Regions from separate parts of the Homo sapiens genome. Here all the other regions are reported to be linked to region 2. Evidence: microRNA targets listed by miRTarBase, many of them from high-throughput screens and not tested one by one. Region 2 holds a microRNA gene; each other region holds the end of a gene's coding sequence.
What was found. Region 2 holds the annotated microRNA hsa-miR-6727-3p (UCCUGCCACCUCCUCCGCAG, at 2,207-2,226, shown strand). A microRNA usually pairs through its seed, bases 2 to 8, with sites in the 3' UTR of a target mRNA and lowers its output. Matches are read on the target gene's strand: a 7mer-m8 pairs with bases 2 to 8, a 7mer-A1 pairs with bases 2 to 7 and ends in A, and an 8mer does both.

Region 1 (3,044 bases), not on the chromosome of region 2:
ATGTATGGATGGACCAGGACAACTGTTGCCCTCTAACAAGAGTAGGAATCTGTCACTTCTTTGTAGTTTAAACCAGGAGCTTCAGAAAATCCGTGAAACCCCTAAAATTGTACACAAAATTTTGTATGTCTGTGTCTGTTTCCTTTTTCATTGTAAAGAAAGTTCAGGACAGCTTTCATCAGAAGGCTTATATTCCACAAAAGGTTCAGAACCTTTGGTTTAAACTTCTAGAATGATGTAACTTAATAAGTGATTGTACTCATTGTCCAAGCTTCCTTCATACACACACACACACACACACACACACACACACACACACCCCACACACACATCTGCCGCCTGCTCTATCTGTAATGCCATCTCTTCTCGCTTTCTCTCCCCTTCCTGTACAGTTCACCCATCTCAGGAGCCTGGCTGGTTGGAGGGGACTCTGAACGGAAAGACTGGCCTCATCCCTGAGAATTACGTGGAGTTCCTCTAACCGTGGGCCCCAGCAGAACTGCTGAGCTTTACATGGTATCCATGACAACTGCTGATTCCAGTGTCGAGGCCATTTCTCTTTGCCACTGAGAAATGCAGCGTGACTGACTCTGTTGCTACCTGTCAACATGAATGTTTCTGTGAGCTCTGGTGTCACTCATCTCCATGATCATCTCAGCCAACATGCATCAGTACTGCAAGAAAAGAAGTCAATCAGCAGAGGAGAGCATTTGATAACTAAGAGGAAGACTTGCAAAGCCGTTTTCTCATGAGTACCCTGAATAGGGGGCACTCATTTTGTTTCAACGGTCCAAACGCCCAACCTTCAGAAAGAGGAAGTCAGATAGAAATAGTCCCTGAGAGCACACTGTGTAGCTAAGCCTGCTGGGGCTGGGTGAAGAAATTGGCGCTGAGATCCAGGCTGGATCCATTGCTTTTGTTTACAATAGGCACTCTCTCTACCCCACCTCTCAGTACTTGAGACTTAAAGTGCTACAGGCAGCTGGATCTGTTTGCATGCAGGATGAAGAGGGTTAAAACACTGTTTATATAAGATCCAATCTCTCACCATCTCTAAAGCAGCCGTTGGCCTGTCATCAGTGAGATACAATCCAGTCTTCTCATGCACGGGAACACACACACCCTGCGTTTCTCCCTCCCAGGCTAGGAACCTCTCTGCCACCAAGGGCTGCCATCCATCGCCTAGTAACCACGGCAACCCAACCTACTCTAAAACCAAACCAAAAAAATAAAATAACACATCCTCTTTGCATGACACATTTTTTTTCTCCCCTTTTTGGTACACTTTTTTTGAATGGTTTTCTAACAACTTGAAGCACAGGATCAAGGAATTAGGGTGGTCTACTTGAGGCAGATGGGATAGTAGCTGGGAACTGTTCCCTTTCTGATTAATTTCAGCAGCATCGGAATATATTTGGAGCACACCCTAGTAACCTCTTGAGATTAAATTACATAGTCTTAATATTTCTGTTCCTCCATGCAACTGATGTTTGTTTTTTAAAGGGTAAGATGCTGCCTCCCAATGGGTGATGCCATCTGACTGGTTTCCCCATGTCCTCCCATTCACCCATCTCTGCTCCCACCCTTGCCTGCCTCTAACCCACCACTGGCCAGCCCCCTTGCCCTACTCTGGGCTGCTGAACACTGGTGCTGTGGTGGTTTTCAAGGTTAATTCCTAGGCTAACCGTATGGCCTATAGTTTAAAAGCACATCTATGTTCACTGCCACTCTGAAAAAGGGAATTATTTCTCAGTCTTTCAAGGCTTGAGACTAATATAGGCCATTGTGATTCAGGAAGAAACCCAAGGTTGGAGGGTGGGATGAGTACCCTCTGAAAAAGGGAATTTGCTGGTGAAAAGAGGCTGGATCTTGTGGAAGACTGTCTTGGATGGGGAAGTACTACCTGGAGATTTCAAATTCACTTGGCCTGCAAACAACAGAGTTATCCGTATCTTCCACATGTGAATGTCATTGCAAGGGTGACTCTAGACAAACTACAAACCGATGGACCGTCAAGCTCCCCAGGAGCCCCTTGGATGGCAGCGTTGCTTCAGAGTGTTTCCTGTTTCTGGAATTCCTTGTTAGGGAACTTTAAAGAAGAAAAGAAAAACTTGAATTGTGTTGAATTACTGTATCTTTTACTTTTTTTTTTTTGAAAAGATAAACTTGTAAATAGAGTGATTTGAAATACTATATGGCAAAGTTTTATATTTGATATTCTTTAAGTTAGTTGCTCACACACTTAGGCTTTGATTGCTGAAGAAGTATGTTTAAGAGGGAGAGAGGGGAGGCAAAGCTGAAGAGAGTCAAGGTCACTGTCCCCGCTTCGGCCTGAAGGAAAGAGAAGACATTTCTATGGCCTTGCTCTCTGCTGTCCTGTTGGTGGGCACGACACATCAGTGGTGTTCAGTCTTTATGTGTTTTTAAGCATCCCTTGGGCTTTGGATTTGGAGATGGGAAGAGCATCTCCAGGCAATGAGTTTTTCAAAGAATGCCTACTTAGTAGTAAGATGAAGCTCAGGATTTAAATAAGTGGGGTCAGGCATTCGAGTTTTTGTCTTTCTTCTCAGGTGTATTTCTTGGTACCCCCAAGATATCAGGCCAGAAAGAGATGAGTCAGTTGCTGTGCTCTTTACTTCTTTTTCTCCACATCTTCTGAGGCTTTAGAAATGTGGACAAGCTAGTTTTCAAATTTTGTGTGCGTCTGTAAGTTCTTAAAGAACCAGCTTCTTAGAATGTTCAGTTCTCAATGTGCTGCTGCTTTCCCTTCTCCTAAACATTTTAAAACTCTTCCCTTTCACCTCCAATTCCCGTGATCCCAAAAGAAGAGGAAGACTCCAGGAGGGGTATAGATTGTGCCGTCATAGCTTTACAGGTGGTTTTAAAGTTAACAGGGGTTTGTCATGGTGATTCACTACTCAGTTTATCAGCTCAAGGATTATACAGCTCTTTTCCGGGAACTCACCCAGGAGCAAGCGAGACACTACCATTGAATCAGGGAATGAGAATTAAGAATGGACAGGACCAAGACAGAACTCAAGAAA
Region 2 (3,144 bases):
GTGGGGGGTACTGCATTTTCAGGCAGGGAGGGAAGAAGATTTGCTCAACATTGAGGAGGAAAACTCAGAGACCCTTTCCTAGGGAGCCCCTTTTCCCTCCTACCTCAGGTGCGGACGAAGCCCTGGCCAGGCTCCTTCTGTCTCTCATGCAGCTCCCTTCTGTCTCTCATGCGGCTCCCTCCTGTCTCTCATACGGCTCCCTTCTGTCTCTGGAGAGCGGCTGGGACGGGACTGGGAGCAGATGAGAGGCTAAGGTCCCTATGAGGCCGCAGCTCTTGGGCACCTGGCCGTGCCCTCACTGGACGCTGCCTGCTGTGTCGAGGGGCCATGTGCCCAGGGCTCCTGCCTTGTGTCCCCCTCAGGTGCTGATACCTGTGTTCGCGCTGGGCCGCGCCCAGGAGCTCTGCATCCTCCTGGAGACCTTCTGGTAGGTGCCGCCAGGACGGCTCTTTAAGGAGCCCCTGGCCCGGCCTGAACACAGTCCAGTTGGTGGGCAGCCCTGTCCAGCGTAGCGGTGGCATCTTGGCCCTGCTTGCTGCTGTCCTGGGGGGCCGCTCGTGTGCTGTGTGACCCCAGGAAGCCTGTGACATCCCGTCAGCGCCACCGTGTGCGGCTCTTGTAGGGGTTCCTGGTTCTCCGCTGAGCCCGGCTGCTGCAGGGCTTAATGGGACAAGTGGTCGCGACTGGACTCAACCTGGCCCGTGCGTGGGCTGTGCAGACACGGGTGTTGGGGGTGACCCGGCCGAGTCCTGCCCTGCAGCATTCTCCCCTGTGGCCACTGTGCTGACTGGGCCGGTGGTCCCCAGGGAGCGCATGAACCTGAAGGTGCCCATCTACTTCTCCACGGGGCTGACCGAGAAGGCCAACCACTACTACAAGCTGTTCATCCCCTGGACCAACCAGAAGATCCGCAAGACTTTCGTGCAGAGGAACATGTTTGAGTTCAAGCACATCAAGGCCTTCGACCGGGCTTTTGCTGACAACCCAGGACCGATGGTGAGGCCCGCGGCAGGGCCGGCCAGCACATCCACACCCGTCGGTCTCCTGTCTTCCGCAGGTGTCTGGGCTTGGGCCTGCAGTGGGGGTGGGGGCATCTGCTGCCCTGACCCCCCACCTGGCCCTGTGTGTCCTGTAGGTTGTGTTTGCCACGCCAGGAATGCTGCACGCTGGGCAGTCCCTGCAGATCTTCCGGAAATGGGCCGGAAACGAAAAGAACATGGTGAGGGCATGGTGAGGTGTGGGAATCTGGAAGCTGGAGGCCGACGGGTTGTCCTTCCACCCATGCTGTCTCTGAGCTCTCACTGGCTTGGCCTCGTGCTGGCCAAGGGACGTGGCTGCTGCTGCTGGGGAACGGGGGCGATGTCCGCCTGGAGCTGCTCAGTCTCTGTGACACAGCTTGTCCACCTCGGGCAGAACAGCCCCAGCCCAGCCCTGGACAGTCTTGTGCCAAAACCTGAGCCCTTTGGAGTCTGCAGCTAGGCTTGGTCGGGCGCCGCTGGCAGGTGGAAACAGCTTCCAGGGGTTCAGGCGGGGGCATCCCGGGCAAGGCCTTGAGGTGCCAAGGCTGGAGTTCCCTGGCTGTGAGCTCTGTGCCTGCCCCCAGGTCATCATGCCCGGCTACTGCGTGCAGGGCACCGTCGGCCACAAGATCCTCAGCGGGCAGCGGAAGCTCGAGATGGAGGGGCGGCAGGTGGTGAGTCTCGACCCCGCACTGGGCTGGCAGGGCCGAGGGGCACCTCCTGGTGGTAACCACTGTCCACGCCCCGTGGCCTCTGTAGCTGGAGGTCAAGATGCAGGTGGAGTACATGTCATTCAGCGCACACGCGGACGCCAAGGGCATCATGCAGCTGGTGGGCCAGGCAGAGCCGGAGAGCGTGCTGCTGGTGCATGGCGAGGCCAAGAAGATGGAGTTCCTGAAGCAGAAGATCGAGCAGGAGCTCCGTAGGCAGCCGGGCGGGCGGCGTGGGGCCCACCTCGGGTCAGCACGGGCAGCCTGGGCTGAGGCTCTCTCTTCCCCCGGGGTCCAGGGGTCAACTGCTACATGCCGGCCAATGGCGAGACGGTGACGCTGCCCACAAGCCCCAGCATCCCCGTAGGCATCTCGCTGGGGCTGCTGAAGCGGGAGATGGCGCAGGGTATGCGGGCTGGGCAGGGCAGGGCAGGGTGCTCGGGGCAGGCGGCTGGGAGCGGCCCTCACATTGATGGCTCCTGCCACCTCCTCCGCAGGGCTGCTCCCTGAGGCCAAGAAGCCTCGGCTCCTGCACGGCACCCTGATCATGAAGGACAGCGTGAGTGCCAGGACGGTCTCTGGAGGGGGGAGGGCCGCTGCTGCGCTCACTGACCTGTCCCTGCCCCACAGAACTTCCGGCTGGTGTCCTCAGAGCAAGCCCTCAAAGAGCTGGGTCTGGCTGAGCACCAGCTGCGCTTCACCTGCCGCGTGCACCTGCATGACACACGCAAGGAGCAGGAGACGGCATTGCGCGTCTACAGCCACCTCAAGAGGTGGGCGCCCGGCCCCGCCCCCCCCCCACTCCCTTGGGCCCTGGAGGCCAGGCAGGGTCTCACCGAGCCTCCCCACAGCGTCCTGAAGGACCACTGTGTGCAGCACCTCCCAGACGGCTCTGTGACTGTGGAGTCCGTCCTCCTCCAGGCCGCCGCCCCTTCTGAGGACCCAGGCACCAAGGTGCTGCTGGTCTCCTGGACCTACCAGGTAAGGGGTGACCCCCACCCCACCGCGGTCAACACAGGTATCAACATTCCTCCCTGTCCTGCACCACCCACAATGCTTTTGCCTCTGCCCTAGGACGAGGAGCTGGGGAGCTTCCTCACATCTCTGCTGAAGAAGGGCCTCCCCCAGGCCCCCAGCTGAGGCCGGCAACTCACCCAGCCGCCACCTCTGCCCTCTCCCAGCTGGACAGACCCTGGGCCTGCACTTCAGGACTGTGGGTGCCCTGGGTGAACAGACCCTGCAGGTCCCATCCCTGGGGACAGAGGCCTTGTGTCACCTGCCTGCCCAGGCAGCTGTTTGCAGCTGAAGAAACAAACTGGTCTCCAGGCTGTCTTGCCTTTATTCCTGGTTAGGGCAGGTGGTCCTAGACAGCAGTTTCCAGTAAAAGCTGAACAAAAGACTACTTGGTACTCTCT
Region 3 (3,044 bases), not on the chromosome of region 2:
TCTGTATGACAATCAGTGGTTTACTGGGTGGGGGTGGGGGCTGGAGAGCAGGGTGGAATTTCAAGAATAAAAGGGGCATGAGGAAACATTGGGGTAATAGGTATGTTCACTATCTTGATTATGGTGATGATTTTACGAGTGTATACATATGTAACACTTCAAACTGTACACTTTAAATAATGTGCATGGTTTGCTTTATGTCAACTATAGCCCTATAAAGCTATTTTATTTTATTTTATTTTTTGAGATGGAGTCTTGCTCTGTTGCCCAGGCTGGAGTACAATGGCGTGATCTCGGCTCACTGTAAGCTCTGCCTCCCGGGTTCACACCATTCTCCTGCCTCAGCCTCCTGAGTAGCTGGGACTATAGGCACCCGCCACCACACCCAGCTAATTTTTTGTATTTTTAGTAGAGATGGGGTTTCACCTTGTTAACCAGGATGGTCTCGATCTCCTGACCTCATGATCCGCCCGCCTTGGCCTCCCAAAGTGCTGGGATTACAGACGTGAGCCACCGCGCCCGGCCTAAAGCTATTTTTTTAAAACACATTTAGAGCTATAGATAAGAATTGATAGTCATCAGCATATGGATGGTGGTAAGCAACATAAGAACATGAGCACAAGGAGGCCAGGCGCAGTAGCTCACACTTGTAATCCCATCACTTTGGGATGCCAAAGCAGGAGCATCCCTTGAGCCCAGGAGCTCGAGACCAGCCTGGGCAATATGGTAAAACACTTTCTCTACAAAATACATTAGCCAGATGTGGTGGTGCATGCCTGTAGTCCACTGAGTGTACTGAGGCTGAGGTGGGAGGATTGCTTGAGCCCAGGTCGAGGTTCAGTGAGCTGTTATCATGCCACTGCACTCCAACCTGGGCAACAGAGCGAGACCCTGTCTCAAAAAAGAAAGAAAAAAAAGGCAAGGAGAATATGTAGTTTTCTCACTTAATAAATATTGAATCCCTCCTATGTATAGATATGCGAGGGACTGGGGATACTAAAATGACTGCAATCTTGGTGCTTAATAATCTAGTGTTGGAATCACGCATATCAACAGGCAGTTATTATAGTGTCATATATGTCTAAATGGGAGAGATTAAAGGGGTTCTGTGAAAGCAGTCAGAAGATTTTGAAAGCTCAGAGTAAGTAATGTCTCAGCCAAAGCCTGAAGAACATATAGGAGGTAACCAGCATGAGATAACCTGTGCTGAGCAGAGTGGGCTTGAAATCAGATCTAGCGGAGTGATTTGGAAAGTACAGCTTCAGGGGTGTTTATTTGCAAAAGCCCCTTCAAACCCTATCTAATTTGTTAATATAATTTTGTACGTATTTTTCCTAAATAAATCCCCTCCCCACTCCCACAACCCCAACAAATTGTGTAAATTTTGGCCCCACAAAACCTGGATTTGTCCTTAAGTAGGTCTTTCTTTTGGGTTACTTAGAATTCAGCTCCTTCTTATGTCTGGGGAATTCCTTGAGTCTTCCCACTGAGCCAGTCTCCCTCTATAAAAGCTGAAAATGCCAAACAACTTAAGCTGAACTTGCACATACTTTAAAATTGGTAACTGGTTAGCAACAACAAATCAAGGAAGGACCTTAGTGTATCCTCTCCAGATGCAGTAGCACATGTGTCAAGATCAAATTCCCAAAGCAGCAGATAGTGTTACAAAGCAGTGTGTCAGTGCTTGGCAACAGTGGCTACAATCTCCTCACCCGACCAGTTATGCAGTATGGTTCCAGGATTTATTCCCAGCCGTGTGGCTCAGACTGATGCTGATTCTCTAGTCCTTTTGGCCATTCTGCAAGCAGCACAATATTCTTCTAATACAATTTATCTTATGCTGAAAACCAGAATCCATCTCTGTTGCTTACGACTAAGAATCCAAACTGATAGACAATTTGGTATTTGGAAGTGGAGTGCTACAAAACAGACCTAGAATGGTGTGTAATTGGCCGGGTGGAAAAGGCAGGATGGAGGGCATTGAGACACAACTGTTTCGGGCTGGGAAACTAGTGACTCTGAGACAGGACACCAAGCTCACACCATCAAGAAATGTACTCTAAAGCTGAGCAGCCTTAGAAAGAGTCTTCTTCCCAGTGCTCATATTAGATGTGGCTGTTGAGGACAAAACACCAGAGAGCCACAGCCACCAGATGAAAAAGCAGCCTACGGATTCCACCAAAGATCTTTTTTTTTTTTAGAGACATTTATTCAGCGTCACAATCAGACTATTACATTTAGCAATCAACAGCATGGGTGCAAAAAAAAAAATCTACATTAAAACACTTTGTTGGAATGCTTTACACTTTCCACAGAACAGAAACTAAAATAACCTGTTATACAATTAGTCACAAATACAGTCCTCGAGTTTTTTGCCCATACACATGAGTATTTGTCTAAAACATGTCTTCTTTGTAGCAGCTAGGCCCTGCCACCACTGTGCTTGGCTGAGTTCACAAATCTGTTGTAACCTGTAGCTTCCCTGTCACTTCTCTGGCTCTCCTCTCCTGCTAAGCTTTGTTTCCTAATTAAAATCTTCTGCCACTGCCATAGCTACTGCTGCTGCTGGAAACGCCATAGCCACCTTGGTTTTGTGGTTTTGCAAAGTATTGGCCTCCACCGCCATAGGGGCCAGAGCTTCTGCCTCCAAAATTTCCTCCCTTCATGGGTCCAAAATTTGAAGACTGATTGTTGTAATTGCCAAAATCATTGTAGCTTCCACCACCTCCAAAATTGCTTCCATCATTACCAAATCCATTATAGCCATCCCCACTGCCACCATATCCACCACCACCACAGCTGCCACCAAAGCCACCACGACCACTGAAGTTTCCTCCACGACCAAAGTTGTCATTCCCACCGAAACCATCTCCACGACCACCACCAAAGTTTCCAGAACCCCTTCGACCTCTTTGGCTGGATGAAGCACTAGCCATCTCTTGCTTTGGCAGGGCTTTTCTAACTTCACAGTTGTGGCCCTTCACAGTATGGTATTTCTGAATGACAATCTTATCCACGGAGTCATGGTCGTCAAAGGTTACAAA

Region 1: miRTarBase lists ARHGAP26 as a target of hsa-miR-6727-3p. The part of its 3' UTR that is shown has no 7-base or 8-base seed match.
Region 3: the mRNA of HNRNPA1L2 is a reported target of hsa-miR-6727-3p. Seed matches in the 3' UTR shown: 7mer-m8 at 2,428-2,434.

What each region holds. Positions count from the first base shown.
Region 1 is chr5:143,221,966-143,225,009 of GRCh38, forward strand. ARHGAP26 (Rho GTPase activating protein 26) reads left to right here. Exons shown (of 23, transcript NM_001135608.3): 23 at 393-3,044. The coding sequence ends at 481. Among named protein-coding and RNA genes, the nearest start is that of ARHGAP26-IT1, 31 kb to the left of the region's middle.
Region 2 is chr1:1,311,584-1,314,727 of GRCh38, reverse strand. MIR6727 (microRNA 6727) reads left to right here and starts at 2,162; the gene lies at 2,162-2,226. INTS11 (integrator complex subunit 11) reads left to right here. Exons shown (of 17, transcript NM_017871.6): 8 at 363-427; 9 at 807-996; 10 at 1,136-1,219; 11 at 1,604-1,693; 12 at 1,779-1,941; 13 at 2,028-2,135; 14 at 2,227-2,288; 15 at 2,360-2,502; 16 at 2,581-2,710; 17 at 2,804-3,128. The coding sequence ends at 2,869. It overlaps PUSL1 (pseudouridine synthase like 1), which reads right to left. Exons shown (of 8, transcript NM_153339.3): 8 at 3,051-3,144.
Region 3 is chr13:52,642,940-52,645,983 of GRCh38, reverse strand. It overlaps HNRNPA1L2 (heterogeneous nuclear ribonucleoprotein A1 like 2), which reads right to left. Exons shown (of 1, transcript NM_001389320.1): 1 at 2,211-3,044. The coding sequence ends at 2,529. Among named protein-coding and RNA genes, the nearest start is that of HNRNPA1L2, 2.0 kb to the right of the region's middle.